Homo sapiens: one gene and its partners. The protein of the gene in region 5 purifies or fractionates together with the protein of the main gene of each other region. This does not show direct contact. Each region holds a gene or a part of one and is shown on either strand. Other genes may lie near its edges.

Region 1 (3,597 bases), on a different chromosome or scaffold from region 5:
AAGACCCTGTCTCAAAAAAAAAAGAATTGGATCTTGAGGAACATGTCACCCCCATGTCTTTAGTTCAGCAAAACTTCACAGAGAAAGGCCACCTCATAAAATCGTGAGGAAGGGCAAACAAAATATAAGGAAGATTCAGAACCACAAGCAAAAAATACAGCTAATGGGGTTGTCTAAGTAAAGAAAGAAAATAGCTCAGATGTTTTTCCCATGCTTCACTAAAGCCTTCATTTTCATGTGTCAGGGTGCTAATATAAAACTTCAGTGATAAGTTGTATATCTAGTGCCAAAGACTAGTTTCTTTAGGGGTGCCATTGAATCAAAATCTTTCATATCTATAAAACTTTTGAAATATACTGAGATATGAGATCTCAAAGGCAGATAGATAAAAGCACATATTCTGGCATCAGAATACCTGGGTTTGAAAGCTGTTTCTGCCATTTATCTGTAGAGTAACCTGGGCAAGTTACTTCTAAATATAATGATAAAATATCTACTTTAAACAGTTGTTACGAGGAATGTAATTGGTAAAATATGTAAAGTCCTTGGAATGGTGCCATGTTTATTTTAATTGCTATGTAAATGTTCAAGATGACTGCTATTATTCCTTGTTCAGACTTATATTTAGCTCTAATTTTTCTCAGAAAACTTTCTTAGGGTGAGATTACTGTAGTTAAGCTGAAGTGATGTAGCTGGTTTTTGTGCATGTTAAAAGTAAAATAATTTTTGCAGTTTCTTTAATGTAAATTATCTGTGTGCAAAATAATGCTAATGTCAACGCAGTGTTCCAATTGTGTGATTATCTTCCATTTAATTTTCAGGAGAATCCTCATTGACACTGGAGAACCAGCAATTCCAGAATACATCAGCTGTTTAAAGCAGGCTCTAACTGAATTTAACACAGCAATCCAGGAAATTGTAGTGACTCACTGGCACCGAGATCATTCTGGAGGCATAGGAGATATTTGTAAAAGCATCAATAATGGTAAACAGAAAACATTCATTAAGCTCATTGAGGAAAGCCGTGTTTGGAGAATAATTTATTTCAGTTACAGAGCTAAGTAGTCTATAAACCATTTACTAAATACCTCAGTTTTAAATGGTACTTTTAGAAATTGATTAGACTGTTGAATACTGTGCCTAGTTTTAACAAAGGAGGAACGGAAATCCTGATTTCTGTTTCAAATCCTCAATTTTACTTTAGTGTGTGAGTTACTATTCAGACTTAATCATAACTAACAACTGTTGAGCATTTACTCTGTGCCAGGCACTGCACTAAACAATTTATGTGGATACTGTGAGGTAGGTGCTCTTATTGTTCACATTCTAACAGATTATCTCAGTCCTTCTGTAACTTTAAGGCAGTTACTAAGATATGCTGAAATTCAGGCAATATATCATTGTATTGATAATTCATTGTCCCTGAAACCTATACAGTACTGACATTTTCTATCTCTTTATTTCCTCATCCCACCATCATATACCTAGATTCATTCATTCATTCATTAAATATTCCAGTTACTGTTATATGTCAGACAGTGTTCTTGGCACAAGGGGTATAGCAGTGAACAAAACAGACTCTGTTCTCATGGAGCTTTCATTCCAGTAGGGAAGGTACTGGTAAATAAATAATAGATCAGGCTGGGTGCAGTGGCTCATGCCTGTAATCCCAGCACTTTGGGAGGTCAAGGTGTGTGGATTGCTTGAGCTCAGGAGTTCAAGACCAGCTTGGGCAACATAGCAAGACCCTGTCTCTACAAAAAAAGTACAAAAATTTCCCGGGTATGGTGGCGTGCACCTGCAGTCCCAGCTACTCGGGAGGCTAAGGTGGGCAGATGGCTTGAGCCAGGGAAGCTGAGGCTGCAGTAAGCCAATATTGTGCCACTGCACTCCAGCCTGGGCACCAGAATGAAAAAAAAAGGGAAAAAAATAGATCAGATAATCATGGGTGCTATGCAGGAAAATAAAGGTACAAGAAGAGAAAGGGAAGAGAGCGTAAAGTGGAGAAGGGCAAGGGCTGTTATATCCAGAGTGGACAGAGAGAAGGAGCAAGCTCCTGGCAGGAAGGCCTGCAGGCAAACAGCATTGCAGGAGCAAAGATGGTGGAATGAGAGTGTGGTTGGCACATTCAGGGCACAGTAAGGAGGTCAAGAACATTCATGCTTATTTACATTGAGCTAGTATTTTTAAACATTTGTAAAGATCTGCTTTTTTAGGCCTTGTGACTACAATTGGGACATCTCAGCTACCACACCCAATATCACCAGGCTGCCAGTTATAAAAAACTGGCAACCAAGCTTCCTTACCCTCTTAGCTCCTTTCTTCCAATCTAAGGGGACTGTGTACCATAGGAACTTATAATCTGTCAGTCTGACTTTTCCTTCTCTTGTCTTACCTCTTTTAATTTTGTCTTACCTCTTCTTTTAATCTACCTATTAAATCTTGTGAATTAAAAAACTATTTTATGCCAGGGACGGTGGTGTGTGCTTATAATCCCATCCACTCAGGAGACTGAGGCAGGACGATAGTTTGAGCCCAGCAGTTCAAGACCAGCCTGAGCTACAAAGTGAAACCCTGTTTGCGGGAAAAAAAAAGAAAAAAAAAAAGAAACTACTCTGTGATTTCTTAATTAGCTTTGTCACCTCAGCCAACTCTTCAGATTTTTCAGTTTGAAAAATTAAAATGTTTATGGCCCACTTTTTTCCTTCATAAATCAATTTTATTGAGCTTTAATTTACATACATAAAATGTGCCCATTTTAAGTGAACAGTTTAGTGAGTTTTAACAAACATCAATACCTATGTGACCATTCCAGTCAAGATATGGAACACTTCCTCCATTCCAAAAAGAGGTCCCCTCATGCTGCTTTGCAGTGATTTCCCCCATCCCCAGCCTCCAACAACCACTCAAATAGGATATGTGTTTTCATTTATATTTGCACATAATTTTGAAGACAGATACAAAGTTATAGTATGACATTTATTTTGTAATTTTGATATAATTGTGATTTTTTAATTGTCTACTAAAGGTCTCATAAGCAGAAATGTAATGCCTCCATTTCTTTACTGAAAGATAAAATTATACAGCTTATAAACAAAACAAACAAAAAAACCTCAATATCTCAATCTTGTTATATAATGTCAATTCCCAGAAAAGCATATCATTGTTTTCCTTCGGCCTCTTAGATACAAAATAATAGAGTTTGGGGTTGGAAGGGGAGGTGGTATTTGTTGTTGTTTCTTTTTATTTCAGTGTTTCTGTCTCCTTTATCCTCAAACTAGCAAATTTCTGTGCCTTGTCCATTTTTCTTTGAAATATCTCTTTCTCCCTTCATATTTCCAGTGCTACCGTCTTAACCCTACTATTCATTACCTTCTAGCTGGGAAATTGTAGTCATTCCCCTCCTGGGCTCTCTGATCTCCTTTTGGTCTCCCTACCCACAGCCGCCATATTGATCATCAGTTAACACTATTTCATTATCTTACTAAAGAGTGTGCAGTGATTACACGTGGTAAAGTTTAAATTCTCCTATTTTGTAAAAGGCAATTTGAGACCCTTTCTGATCTGAGCTTATCTTACCTATCCAACTTTATCTCC
Region 2 (3,597 bases), on a different chromosome or scaffold from region 5:
TTTAAATTAAGGGCTACAAGCCACTGTCTAGCGAGGATGTTACTTGTTTTGTTTTGTTTTTGAGGGCGCAATCTCGGCTCACTGCAGCCTCCGCCTCCTGGGTTCAAGCGATTCTTCTGCCTCAGCCTCCCGAGTCGCTGGGACTACAGGCACACACCACCACGCCCAGCTAATTTTTGTATTTTTGGTAGAGACGGGGTTTCACCATATTGGCCAGGCTGGTCTCAAACTCCTGACCTCATGATCCGCCTGCTTCGGCCTCCCAAAGTGCTGGGATTACAGGCATGAGCCACCGCGCCCAGCCGAGGATGTTACTTATATTGAAATAACAGATATTTTATTCTTGGTCTCAGCAAGATTTTGAGGCTGAGACAGGAAGTGAATCCAATACATGGTAACTATTTTCTAGATTAAAAATGACAGGTTCCCCATGTTTGCCCTGAATGCTTCTGCTTTATCCATCTGAATGGTAGAGGCTAATATCCTCTTTCATGCCCATTTTATAAGATTCTGAATGAATTTTGGAGTGTAGGAAATCTTTTTTTTTGAGATGAGGTCTTGCTTTTGTCGCCCAGGCTGGAGTGCAATGGCATGATCTTGGCTCACTGCAACCTCCACCTCCTGGGTTCAAGTCATTCTCCTGCCTCAGCCTCCCGAATAGCTGGGATTACAGGTGCCTGCCACCACGCCTGGCTAATTTTTGTATTTTTAGTAGACACAGGATTCTACCATGTTGGCCAGGATGGTCTCGGACTCCTGACCTCAGGTGATCTGCCCTCCTTGGCCTCCCAAAGTGCTGGGATTACAGGCATGAGCCACTGCATGTGGCCTAGGTAATCTTTTATTAATATTAACAACAATGATAATGGCAAATCAGTGCTGTTGGTTTTTTACCAAGGTATAAATAGTTCCATGTATTTTTTTTTTTTTTTGGAGACAGAGTCTTGCTCTGTTGCCCAGGCTGAAGTGCAGTGGCATGATCTTGGCTCACTGCAACCTCCACCTCCCAGGTTCAAGCGATTCTTCTGCCTCAGCCTCCCGAGTAGCTGGGACTACAGGCACTCACCACCATGCCTGGCTGATTTTTGTATTTTTATCAGAGACGGAGTTTCACCTTGTTGGCCAGGCTGGTCCCGAACTCCTGACCTCGTGATCTGCCCACCTCGGCCTCCCAAAGTGCTGGGATTACAGGCGTGAGCCACCGTGCCTGGCCAGTTCTGTGTAATTTTATTTCTTTATCATACGTTTATTTTTTAAGCTAATACATCTACATATTTAGAAATCAAAACAATTCTCCGTAGTCTTCCTATTCTTCCCCCAACCAATAGGTGGCCACATTTATTAGTTTCATGTTTATCCTTCCATTGTTTCTTTGTGCAGATCCAGATGTTTATTTCCCTCCTTTCTAAAAGGGTAGCTTTCTTTTTATATTACTCTATACCCTGCTTTTTCTACTTAATCATATATCTTGGTGAGCATTCCATATCTTTACATATAATCTCTCTCTTTAAAGGACACATTTACATAGGATTCCATTAGGTAGATATGTCACTGTTTATTTGTTAATATAAATAATGGTTATTCTGGCCATAGTTAAGGAATGAGTTATGGACATTTGGGTTGTTTATAATCTGTTGCTATTAGAAATAATACTGTAGCTAATGATCTTTTTTTTTTTTTTTTTTTTTTTTTTGTGAGACAGGGTCTTGCTCTCTCACCCATACTGGAGTGCAGTGGTGTGATTGCAGCTCACTGCAACCTCTGCCTCCCGGGTTTAAACAATTCTTGTGCCTCAGTCTCCCGAGTAGCTGGGATTACAGACGCCCGCCACCACGCATGGCTAAATTTTGTATTTTTAGTAGAGATGGGGTTTCATCATCTTGGCCATGCTGGGCTTGAACTCCTGACATCGTGATCTACCCACCTCGGACTCCCAATGTGCTGGAATTACGGGCATGAGCCACCACGTCTGGCCACAAATAATCTTTTAAATATGAGTGAATTCAGTTATTCCCAGTAATTGGGTTATTGGATAAAAGGGTAAACAGATTTGTCATTTTGATAGGTATTTCCAGATGACCCTCCCTAGGTAAAAGCACATTCACTGAAGTTCTGTCATTTCCCAGCATTTTCTCCAGGCCCTGGGCATGTTGAGGGTATGCAATCCCTGCTTGTGCCTTTAAGGAACTGGAGCCAGGATAGACACAGAGCTAAAAAGTCAATTAGCACACAGATGAAAACTTATGTTGGTAGTGCCAGGGGACCATGGGAGTATAGAGTGTGGGTATTAAATAGAGTAGGTAGATGGGGAATGGTACTGGGGAGGGAGACTACCTAAAAGAACCAGTCTTGTGTTGGGTCTTAAAGAACATTCATATTGGCCAAATCCAGCAATCTGTATCTTGGCAGAGGTTGGCATACAGCTGTTTTTGTAAACAAGCGGCAAGATTCCAGGATGAGGCCTGAGTTTGTGATTCTGACTTCCAGGTCTGGTAGATTTTTTTTTCTAGATCTGAGTAAATCAGTCCTATGTGACATTTTAATTATTATAAACTAGTGCTTCACTTAAAAACAATGGAGCGATCATTTTCCATCGAAATCAAGGAAATGCAAATTAAAATTAAAGTGAGATGAATTGTTCAGGTACCAGATTGGTACAAATTGAAGAAACCTTCCATCACTGAATCTTGTTGAGGGTGGTACACCACACTACAGGGTGGTGTAACCTGCTATGACACTGGCATTACCTAATAAAGCTGGTATTTGCATACCTTATGGCCCAGCAATTCTAGTGGTAGGTTGGGTCAGCAAACATTTAATTAGTGCTCAAAGAAATTTCAGCTGAATTCTCTTTGATTCTACTTTTCATGTATTTGAAAGTTGCATTATTGTTAACCTATCCTGCTGTCTGTCCAGTCTTGCCCATGCACTTCCCGCCCTTTTCCCCCTCCAGCCTCAGTAACCCCAGTTATTTTCTGACAAAGTTTCCAGTTCTTTTACCCTTCCGGTTGGTTCAGATTGCTTTGATTTGTTTTGGTATTTTAGTTTTTAAAAGTGTAGTACTCAAACCTCAGTTCAGTGTGCAGTTAGTTGGTCTGCGAGATAGCTGTCAGTACTACAAAAAATAACTGCTGAAGACCTAGGAACTAAGAGAAGGCAGGGGGTTCTGAAGGTTTGTGCACGTCTCTCCCATTCCATTCAGATTCTCTTTCACTTGCTCATTCAGTCCAGCAATGAATAGACTGACTCTCACGTTTTTGTTCCTGCTGCCAGTAAGAGTAGTTTTGATCAATATATTTCTTTTAACAAAATTATTTGGCTGAAATGTTATTTGCATTATATTTTTTAGTAGGATTTTCCACCTGCAATTCACTTAAGATTGGTTCCTGATCTACACGTTTTAGTTTGGAGTAGTTTGAAATTCTTAGCTCTTCATTAAAGAAGACAATTGCAAATATTAGTTTAGAATAAATTGTTTTTACAGGTTGGATTATGAAGTGTGTTACAAGTTTCACATGATATTTTTAGAGTATCACCACACTTGATTGCTCATTTTTTTCCTCCTCTCAAAAACAGTATAATTTGGCTAATAAGGTT
Region 3 (3,597 bases), about 200 Mb from region 5:
CAGCATGCTCGTTAAGAGTCATCACCACTCCCTAATCTCAAGTAATCAGGGACAAACACTGCGGAAGGCCGCAGGGTCCTCTGCCTAGGAAAACCAGAGACCTTTGTTCACTTGTTTATCTGCTGACCTTCCCTCCACTATTGTCCCATGACCCTGCCAAATCCCCCTCTGTGAGAAACACCCAAGAATTATCAATAAAAAAATAAATTAAAAAAAAAAAAAAGAATAGTTGTATTAATGGGAAAAACTAGGGTTTGGCAGTGGATTCCTCTTGATGCAAGTGTCACAACATGATTTGCTATTATACTGATTTTTAAAACTATTAGTCTGTTCTCACATTGCTATAAAGAACTACCTGAGACTGGGTAATTCATAAAGAAAAGAGGTTTAATTGACTGGCAGTTCTGCAGGTTGTACAGGAAACTTGTCTGGGGAGGCCTCAGGAGACTTACAAGTATGATAGAAGTCAAAGGGGAAGCAGACATGTCTTTCATGGCCGGAGAAGGAAGAAGAGAGAAGGGGGAGGTGTTACATATTTTTAAACAACCAGATCTTGTGAGAACTCACTCTCTGTCACAGGAACAGCAAGGGAAGTCTGCCCTTGTGATCCAGTCACCTCCCACAAGGCCCCTCTTCCACCATTGAAAATTACAATTTGATATGAGATTTGGGCAAGGACAGAAATTTAAACCATATTATATATCAAGTCATGAACAGTGTCCAGGAAAAGATATTGACAGCCTATCACTTGATAAAGTGGCAGAATTAATCTATGTTATCCCTCTGAGCATCACATGCTGATAGTTACCTGAGAGCTATAATTCCATTCCAAGTTCTAGGTTAGTGTACTCAGATTTCTGTCATTCCCTTAAAATACATTTTTACTTACTGCTAGTGCATATATTTGAAATTTTACAGACTTTAAAATTTATTGAACATAAGCCATAAAGTCATCAAGGAACCCCTTTAGTTATGTATATAAATGTAGAAATAAGCCTTTGGGAATAGTGAGTTAAAACTACAAGCTCTTGGGAAGACATTACCTTATTCATGTTGGGCAGAGATGTAAGAATGAAATAAGTCATGTAGTTACCCTTCTATTACTGTTTTTTTTTTATACATGTGTACACAAAGCAAGTTTCCCAATATAACTCCTAAAAATAGAGTGTGCCACCAGGCACACACCCTTACTGTGTCCTAAAATACATGAATTTCTCCTATTCCATTTTTGGCTTGGAGCAAGTGAGTTGACTGCCATTCTTTGAAAAAGCTGTCATTGAATAGTTTAATACAGTGCTTTAATTGTGATACATACCAGTAATAGTGCCATAAACATGGGAATCTGGGTCAGAAAAGGAAGTAAACCCATTATAGCTATTTCAGAGTTGTCTGTTTCTTTTCATTTGCAGATTTTTTAAAGGCATTATTCCTATAGGTTGATTGATATTTGCAGATTTGTATATATATGTTAAAGTGTGTATGTGGAAATATGTGTAAGTGTATATGTTAAGTGTTTATATATATAAAAAGTGGCGCATGGGAGGTAGGCATTCAGGGCCTTATAATTAGAAAATATCAAAGAAGATATATGTTTATTACCTAGGGCTTTATGTAAAATCAATGGTAGAGAGCACTTAAAATTGAAGCTTATATTTTTTGGTCTTTAACAATCATAGGTCTCCAGTAAATATAAAAAATGCTTCTTAGGGCAACTAAAACTAAGCAAGTAGTACGTGATAATGAGTCTGTACCATCCCTACCCCCTAGTCATCAACTTCCCCTTCAGAGAGATAATTTATTTTAGGTTTGGTCTTTATTCTTCCAAATCTTTTCCTTTTTTCTTTTTCTTTTTTTTTTTTTTTTGAGACACGGTCTGCCTCTGTCACCGAGGCTGGAGTGCAGTGGCACGATCACAGCTTACTCTGTAGCCTTGAGCTCCTGGGCTCAAGTAATCCTCCAGCCTCAGCCTCCCAAGTAGCTAGGACTACAGGCATTTACTGCCATACCTGGCTAATTTTTTATTTTTAAGAGACAGGGTCTCCCTGTGTTGCCCAGGCTGGTCTTGAACTCCTGGGCTCAAGCAGTCCTCTGGCCTTGGTCTCCCAAAGTGCTGGGATTACAGACTTTAGCCACTGTGCCTGGCCTCGTCCAAATCTTTTCTATGAGTTTACACACTTGCAGTCTTGAACAAAATTTTAAAGAGAAAGTACCTCAAGAAAGTGAGCATTGGTTCAAAAAACAAAAACAAACAACCCACCAGTATATATGAAAGTTATCACAGAGGAATAAAACATCCCTGTAGTACTTTTCATAATATATTCTTAATCTTAAAACATTAAATGTGACTCTTTTTAGAAATCTTGGGGGAGAAAATATGCCTACAGTGCTTATTTTCCTGCTTTTCCTGGTAATTGCCTAATATCTTGGTGAGAAGTACTGACTCCAGAACAAACCAGTGGAGAACAATAGAACTCCTCTGAGAGTTACTTAGCAGCTCACTCTATGATTTGAAAAAAATGATTGTTACATGACATTTCATCCATAAGAACAAGCCCATTTCTAGTTCTGGCACTGTATGACATGTTCTCTTTGAATCTCAGTTGGCATTAATGACTATGCTGGTAGTATTCATGTGTCCCTTGTGAGGCTGTGAACAATCTCCCATTACTTGCCTGCCAGAGCAGCCTTCGTGCTTTGGTGGGAGTCATTTCCAAATCTAATTTTCTGTTCATATTGCAATTTAAAGAACGTTTAGATAGAAAAAAAAGGGCCCAGGCTTCACAAAGAATTTCAATTTACATCAACGATTTGAACAAAAGCTTCAGATAATATAAGTGAAAATACTAAAATTGGGGCAGAGTTAAAGATGTTCTGGCATGTCATCAGTTGGGAAACAACCATGGCATAGTATAGAAAATTTCAGGAGTGAGACCTAGCTGTGTATGGAGAGAGCTCTATCACTGATTTCACTGGGACCTGGGGCGAGCTGCCTCATCTTCCTTGGAGTTAGTTACCTTATATTTAAAATCAGGAGAAAAGGGAAAAAAACTTCACTTTTGTAATAGTTTAAAATGTTACAATGGAACTATGAAACTGATAGTTCTGCATATCTTAAAAGGCAGTTAGAAACTCAGAAAAAAATCTGATTCCCAAATAGACTCTTCAGATAGTTTTATCTTCATGATCATGTCTCTGTGGTTCCACCTTTCTGAAAACAGTCTTCAGTAACTTAAGAAATCATTTCAACTTCCATGATCTTCAGTAGCAGCAGCATGAATGACACATGCCAAGAGACTAAATGGAATGAGATAAGCCTGTCTTTCAGAGACATCATCTATTTCCTGCTGCTGTCCAGACAGGAAAGTCAGACTCCATTTTTCCCCTTTGTAAAGTTGACTTGAGCTACATGAAGCACTTGTTAGAACAGTCCAATTCAAGATAATTGTGCTTTATGACTGCATTCAGAATCACATGTGTACCCACTGTGTGTGTGGGGGGTGTGTGTATGTGTGTGCATGTGTGTGGGTGGGTGGGTGGAGGGGGTGTGTGTGGGTAGGTGGGTGGTGGGGGTGTGTGTGTATGTGTGGGTGGGTGGGT
Region 4 (3,597 bases), on a different chromosome or scaffold from region 5:
TTATCCATAAAATAATTATTGATAACTTCCTAATGTAAAATGAAAAATAATGATAAATCACATACTTCCCTCATTTTTACAGAATTCCTTGCTTGCCTTATCTCTTCAAGTGTTGACTGCAAGGTTCCTGTACACTTACTTGAGTTGGCCACTCCGGTCACTATACCCTGATCTCTGACACTTGGCCGTGGTAGCCTGGAGCAGCATTGTTACTGGGCATTGCTGTGATTGGGTTACCCAGCTGTGCTGATGTGGAAACCTCAGGGCTATTTATTGATACTTGGTTTCCTAAAGGAAAGTTGAGGGAATGTATTTTATGAGAGGGCTTTATTTACACGATTAAAGAGGTTTATAAAATGTGGAGATGAATATAGGTGAAACAGAGAAAGAATGCTGGTATAGGAGGTGTTTTCGGCTGGGTTTGGTGGCTCATACCCGTAATCCCAGCACTTTGGGAGGCTGAGGCGGGTGGATCACTTGAGTCCAGCCTGGGCGGCGTAGTGAGACCCATCTCTACAAAAACTACAAAAATTAGCTGGGCATTGTGTTGCATGCTTGTAGTCCTGGCTACTCAGGAGGCTGAGGTGAGAGGATTGCTTGAGCCCAGGAAGCAGAGGTTGCAGTGAGCCAAGATCGTGCCACTGCACTCCAGACTGGGCAATAGAGTGAGACCCTATCTCAGAAAACAAACAAAAATCCCCAAAAAACCAGGAAGTGTTTTCTTAGGGTCTAGTTCCCAGGCGAATGGTATATCCTGATTCTAGGTTTATAAAAATAGTATATTATTCATAACATTTGTCTAAAGTGACACATTTACATACAGTATATAGTATTGAGTAATTTCCAACTCTTTAAAAATAATGGAGACCCTTTCATGTAGTAGTAACTATGTTTTTAGTATCTGTTGACTGAGAAAATACGTAACAGCAAAAGCTACTATAAAACTTTGAAATAAGTTCTTGTAAATGTAAAAAAAATTCTCATATATTTGGAAAGTATACATGTGGAAATTATGACTTATAGAGTCTATGGACACTTGATTTCTTGCTTTATGGATACTCTCAGGAAGTTCTGGTCTCAACTTTGAGTATCTCATTGTCCTCTTACTTTAGAATGTGGGGTATGGGGGAAAACTTCTATTTGAAAATTTGAGCCATAGCGGAAATTTTGGAATGACAGGGAAACACCTTCTCAGAATCCTCTTACAATAAAATTTATATATGTTATGCCAGACAATGTACTTTATACTAAGACTGGACTTTTAAATAGTCTCATGGATTAGAAGTCAGATACAATAAATAAATACTTTTTAAAAATTATATTTTTAGGTATATGAGCATTGTTGTTGGGACTACAGTGCTATTTTAAAGTGAAATTTAGTTGATTTGCATGTGAGTATACACCTACAGGTCTCTGTTATAGCCGTGACATGTCTTCTGTTACTATAAATTACATAACAAATCCTTATGGTTTCTTGGGTCACTTATTTTATTTAAAGACAAAAACATCTTTCAGTACATATGTAAGACTTAAGGCATTATTGAAAATAAGCCTGTGCTACATGGTAGAATCTATTAAAAAAAAAAAAACACTCAGGCAAGGCACAGTAGTTCATGCCTGTAATCCCACCACTTTGGGAGGCAAGGAAGGAGGATCACTTGAGGCCAGGAGGTCGAGACCAGCCTGAGCAACATAGGAAGACCTAGCCTCTACTAAAAATTAAAAAAAGAAATTAGCAAGGTGTGCTGGCATGCACCTGTGGTCCCACCTCCTCTGGAGGCTGAGGTGGGAGAATCGCTTGAGCCCAGGAGTTCGAGGCTACAGTGAGCTATGATTGCACCACTGTACTCCATTCTGGGTGACAGAGCGAGACCCTTTCTCAAAAAAAAAAAAAAAAAAAAAAAAAGCAAAACCAAAAACCGAAAAACAACTCAGGACAGTCTTTGTATAAATTAGATAGCCCTAAATTTTATGTTTGTTCTTTCATTTCTCTTTTTTTTTTTTTTTTGGCTGCCGCCCAGGCTGGAGTGCCATGGCAGGATCATAGCACACTGCACACTGTAGCCTTGACCTCCTGGGCTCAAGTGATCCTCCCACCTCAGCCTCCTGAGTAGCTAGGACTACAGGCTTGTGTCATCATGCATGGCTAATTTTTTAAAAAAAATTTATGTAGAGATAGGGTCTCCCTATGTTTCCCAGGTAGGTCTTGAACTCCTGGACTTAAGCAGTCCTCCCACCTTGGCCTCTCAAAGTGCTGGGATTATAGGCATGAGCCTCCACGCCCAGTACATTTCTTTTGTTTTTATTGTGTTTGATTGTCAGAGAACCTGAGTTTGGTTGGGGTTGAGAGAGAACTATAGGGCCTATTATAGGTGAATACTTATTTTATCTTAGATTAGTGGTGTGTAGCTAAGGAAAGGTAAGGTCATATCTTCCTGTAACAGTCCAGATTAGATAGGGAAATGGGTGAAAAGCCACAAGTTGTTTTGCAACTCTGGTCTCACAGTAATTGAGAGCAAAAAGGAAAAAGTGCACTGTAGTCCCCCTTGTTTCTGATTTTGTGGGGTGTGAATATGCCTTCTAGTCAGATCGCCTTAGGGGGCCAGGAAGAGGAGGGTTGAGGGCAGAGCATGTTTACCTGCGTGCAGAGCCACTTGAAAAATTATAGGCTCATTTACATATTTGCATCCTTGTGTATGTGTTTGTGTTGCAGGGGAGTCAGTGTAGTATTATGAAAAGAACATTTGACAGTGAATTGGAAAACTAGGTTTTTCTAGTCTTGTTTTTGCCTGAGTCGTTTAAGCTTCTTGTGCCTCAGTTTTCATATCTGCAAAATGAATGAATTGGACTGGGTAATACCTGGTGTTGCTTTAAGATTCTGTAGGCTGGGCATGGTGGCTCTTGCCTGTAATCTCAGCACTTTGGGAGGCTGAGTCGGGCGGATCACGAGGTCAAGAGATTGAGACCATCCTGACCAGCATGGTGAAACCCCATCTCTACTAAAAATACCAAAATTAGCTGGGCGTGGTGGTGTGTGCCTGTAGTCCCAGCTACTCAGGAGGCTGAGGCAGGAGAATCACTTGAACCCGGGAGGCGGAGGTTCCAGTGAGCCAAGATCATGCCACAGCACTCCAGCCTGGCAAGAGAGCGAGACCCCGTCCCCCCCGCAAAAAAAAAAAAAAAAGATTCTGTAATTTAAGGATTATTTTAAAGTCTCCAACTTTCTGTAATTTTTAATGGAAAAATATAGTTAATACAGTATGCAAAATTATGTCTTTTTAAAAAATATTTTGTTCAAGTTGACTATCTTGTGCGATTCACTATAAGTGTTACACTGCATCTAAGATCTTATGTTTGAACTTCGTAGCCTAGTGTGCCCAGTAATTTGAGCTACTGGCAAAGTTACATAACCCTTTTAAAGATTTAGTATTTAAAGAATAGATTACAATGTATCAGAAGCATCATATTAAATATCCCATCTGAAGTAATGGTATTAAGGACTAGAAATTATGTCTTTCTAAATGTACAGCTGGGAATTGCTTATTTATGCTTGACAATAGATTTCAGATGAGAAAAGTCCTCATTTAGCAGGATATA
Region 5 (3,184 bases):
CTTCCTCCCACCTTGGAGGCGGCCACAGTGCTGCTGTCCCCAGCCCTGTCCTGGACTCGGCACTTATCAGCACTTTTGAGCTGTCTTCTGGAGTCCTGGTAAAAAGGGCTACTCTGCCTGCCTGATTCAAGACAAGGGACCCCCTTCCCAACAGCACCCCCGCCCCTTGCCGTGCAACCCAGTGGTCTCCAGTCACCCCACCACATCGTCCCCTCTGTAACCTGACGGTCTCCAGTTCCCCCACCACCTTCCCCCAGAACCTGTTGGTCTCCAGTCCCCACCCCATCACCACCAACTCCCAACTCCCCACTGGAACCCAGCAGTCTCGTATCTCCATCAGTGAGGACAGTGTGAGAAATGGTGTCTGGCTCAGGCACTTGGCAGCACTTGAGGGGTCCTCAGATGTCTCCTGCCCAGCAAGGATCTGACTAAAGCAGTCGTGGGTGTGGGAGGGGCCTGCAGGCATGCCTGGGTTGGGGGCAGCTGGCCCTGGGCACCCTGGTGCAGGTCCAGTCTGCCCTCTGGATGGCCCCTCCTCTTCCCCAGATTACTACTTTGTAACCAGGGAGGTGATGCAGCGTGACATAGCAGCCGGCGACTTCATCGAGCATGCCGAGTTCTCGGGGAACCTGTATGGCACGAGGTGGGCCATGCGTGGGTGTGGGTGGGCTCCCAGGGTTGCTGTTGGCAACAGGGATCCAGGTAGTGCCTGCTGCCTGCCCGCCATCCACACCACCCACCCCATGGTTATGAATGTGGCCAGGTTGTGGCCCAGGGCCAGGCTCCCACGTCTGTGGCCCACAGTGGCTCTTTTCATGAGGCTGCTGGGCCCGGTCCTGCCACCGTGCATTGTCCTGGCAGGGTGAAGGGTGCACAGGACACCTCATGCTCACTACAGGCACCTTGGGGAGTGGGTGGCCTCTGTTCCCTGTAGGCGGGGCAGGGCGTGGGGGTAGCAGGTTTGAGATGCTGTCGGGTGCTGGGTCCAGGCCAGGCCTAGGCTCAGCTGTGGGAGGAGAACGCTGGGCCCGGGAGGGCCTGGGTGTCCCTGAAGCTCCTGTAGGCCTCAGAGAGCCCTGGCACCCCTGCTGACCTGGCACCTCTCCCCAGCAAGGTGGCGGTGCAGGCCGTGCAGGCCATGAACCGCATCTGTGTGCTGGACGTGGACCTGCAGGGTGTGCGGAACATCAAGGCCACCGATCTGCGGCCCATCTACATCTCTGTGCAGCCGCCTTCACTGCACGTGCTGGTGTGTGCTGGGCAGGGTTGGGGGCTGGGGGCCAGGGCATGCCAGGCTCTGATTGCCACCCCCTTTTTAGGAGCAGCGGCTGCGGCAGCGCAACACTGAAACCGAGGAGAGCCTGGTGAAGCGGCTGGCTGCTGCCCAGGCCGACATGGAGAGCAGTGAGTGTGCCGTGGGATCACCAGGGAATGCCAGGAGGGGAGTCAGGGTTCTGAGGTCTGTGGCACCAGGGACCCTGTGGGTCCCCAGACCTCCTGACACCTGGAGTCCCTGTGAGGGTCCTCAGACCTCTCAACTACCTCCCAACACCTAGAGTCCCCGTGAGGGTCCCCAGAACCCACCCCCAGTCACCAAGGGTCTCATTGAGGGTCCTCAGATTTCCCTCTGTTACCCAGAGTCTCCGTGAGGGCCCCCAGACCCCCCATCGCCCAGGGTCCCATGAGATGTCCCCAACCTTCTAGCCCCGGGGGTGTCATGTGCATCCTCTTACAGCTGTTGCCTCTTCTCTGGGTCTGACTGCAGCCCACAAGAAGAGGGCATTTAATGTTCTGCTGTGTGTGTAGAGGATAGTGTAGCCCCTAACCAGAGTCCTGATGGGTGCTGGTGTCCAGACCCAAGTTCTGGGGCTCCAGAGAGAGCAGGAGTGGTGCCTGAGGACTGAGGCCCAGGGGGCGGCCCTTCCCTACCCTGCACAGGCCCGGCTGGGCTGGAAAGCTGTCCCACAGCCGCAGTGAGGACAGCCGCAGGCCAGTGGGCTGCTCTGGGGGTCGTGTGGGACCTGGGGTGGGGCTGCATGGGCTCACTGTGCCCTGACCCCAGGCCCCACCCACAGGCAAGGAGCCCGGCCTGTTTGATGTGGTCATCATTAACGACAGCCTGGACCAGGCCTACGCAGAGCTGAAGGAGGCGCTCTCTGAGGTGGGCCCATCCTTGTGCCTACCTGGGCAAGGCCCAAGGGGAGGCCTGGGGGCCAGGCCTTTGTTGTCCATGAGGCCACTGAGGTTAGATGGGACAGTCCTACCCAAGCACTGGCATGAGACACCGAGGTCCACGGTGGAGGGAGAGCAGGAAGCCCAGCCCTTCCTGGATACCAGCCCTCCCAACTCCCTTTCTTCCTCACTGGCAGGAAATCAAGAAAGCTCAAAGGACCGGCGCCTGAGGCTTGCTGTCTGTTCTCGGCACCCCGGGCCCATACAGGACCAGGGCAGCAGCATTGAGCCACCCCCTTGGCAGGCGATACGGCAGCTCTGTGCCCTTGGCCAGCATGTGGAGTGGAGGAGATGCTGCCCCTGTGGTTGGAACATCCTGGGGTGACCCCCGACCCAGCCTCGCTGGGCTGTCCCCTGTCCCTATCTCTCACTCTGGACCCAGGGCTGACATCCTAATAAAATAACTGTTGGATTAGAAACTCCATAAATGAGTGGAATGTGGCCCCAAGGTTGGTGGGGCCCCATCATCCCGATCGGGCCCTGAGCTCCGGCAGCCCACCCTAACCACCAGCCCCAAGGAGGGCCACAAGATGGCCTCTGCCTAGGCATCTGCTGCCTGCCGGCTCGTGGCTGCTGCCCCAGGGCAGCATGATGCTTGACTGGCAGGCAGGGAAGGTGGCAGGGCTGGTCCCAACCCACCTGGCAGGCTGGCAAGTGGGGAGCAGGAAGCGGCTGCATGGGGCAGCCTGAGGCTGCAGGGGTGGGCCCTGAGGGCTGCCTCTTGGTGCCCGACCCTGTGGGTCTGGCATGGGCCAGAGGTTCCAGGAGAGGCCCCTGAGCTCTGGCAGCTGGAGGTTCTAGATCTCGAGGTCTAAGGGGTTCCCTGAGGGAGATGCCCCTCCCCTAGCTGCCCCAGGGGCTGTGTGTGGTGTGTGAGGAGCCTCCTCTGCTCAGGCTGCCTCCCTCCTTCCCCAGTGCTCCCCCAGCTTGCCTGTCTAAGGCAGCACAGGGC

The links.
Region 1: the proteins of GUK1 (region 5) and LACTB2 fractionate together in Homo sapiens (co-fractionation; one large-scale study listed by BioGRID). This does not show direct contact.
Region 2: the proteins of GUK1 (region 5) and TIGAR fractionate together in Homo sapiens (co-fractionation; one large-scale study listed by BioGRID). This does not show direct contact.
Region 3: the proteins of GUK1 (region 5) and CLIC4 fractionate together in Homo sapiens (co-fractionation; one large-scale study listed by BioGRID). This does not show direct contact.
Region 4: the proteins of GUK1 (region 5) and MSRB3 fractionate together in Homo sapiens (co-fractionation; one large-scale study listed by BioGRID). This does not show direct contact.

The regions. Positions count from the first base shown.
Region 1 is NC_000008.11:70,659,122-70,662,718, reverse strand, and holds part of LACTB2 (endoribonuclease LACTB2), read left to right. Parts: exon of another isoform or gene 1-821; coding exon 822-985; exon of another isoform or gene 986-2,574; intron 2,575-3,597.
Region 2 is NC_000012.12:4,327,662-4,331,258, forward strand, and holds part of TIGAR (fructose-2,6-bisphosphatase TIGAR), read left to right. Parts: intron 1-3,597.
Region 3 is NC_000001.11:24,800,865-24,804,461, forward strand, and holds part of CLIC4 (chloride intracellular channel protein 4), read left to right. Parts: intron 1-3,597. UniProt on the Homo sapiens protein: In the soluble state, catalyzes glutaredoxin-like thiol disulfide exchange reactions with reduced glutathione as electron donor. Can insert into membranes and form voltage-dependent multi-ion conductive channels.
Region 4 is NC_000012.12:65,285,140-65,288,736, forward strand, and holds part of MSRB3 (methionine-R-sulfoxide reductase B3 isoform 2 precursor), read left to right. Parts: intron 1-3,597. UniProt on the Homo sapiens protein: Catalyzes the reduction of free and protein-bound methionine sulfoxide to methionine. Isoform 2 is essential for hearing.
Region 5 is NC_000001.11:228,146,296-228,149,479, forward strand, and holds the end of GUK1 (guanylate kinase), read left to right. Parts: intron 1-546; coding exon 547-643; intron 644-1,110; coding exon 1,111-1,249; intron 1,250-1,319; coding exon 1,320-1,404; intron 1,405-2,075; coding exon 2,076-2,161; intron 2,162-2,369; coding exon 2,370-2,402; coding exon of another isoform or gene 2,403-2,557; 3' UTR 2,558-2,656; downstream 2,657-3,184. UniProt on the Homo sapiens protein: Catalyzes the phosphorylation of GMP to GDP. Essential enzyme for recycling GMP and indirectly, cyclic GMP (cGMP). Involved in the cGMP metabolism in photoreceptors. It may also have a role in the survival and growth progression of some tumors.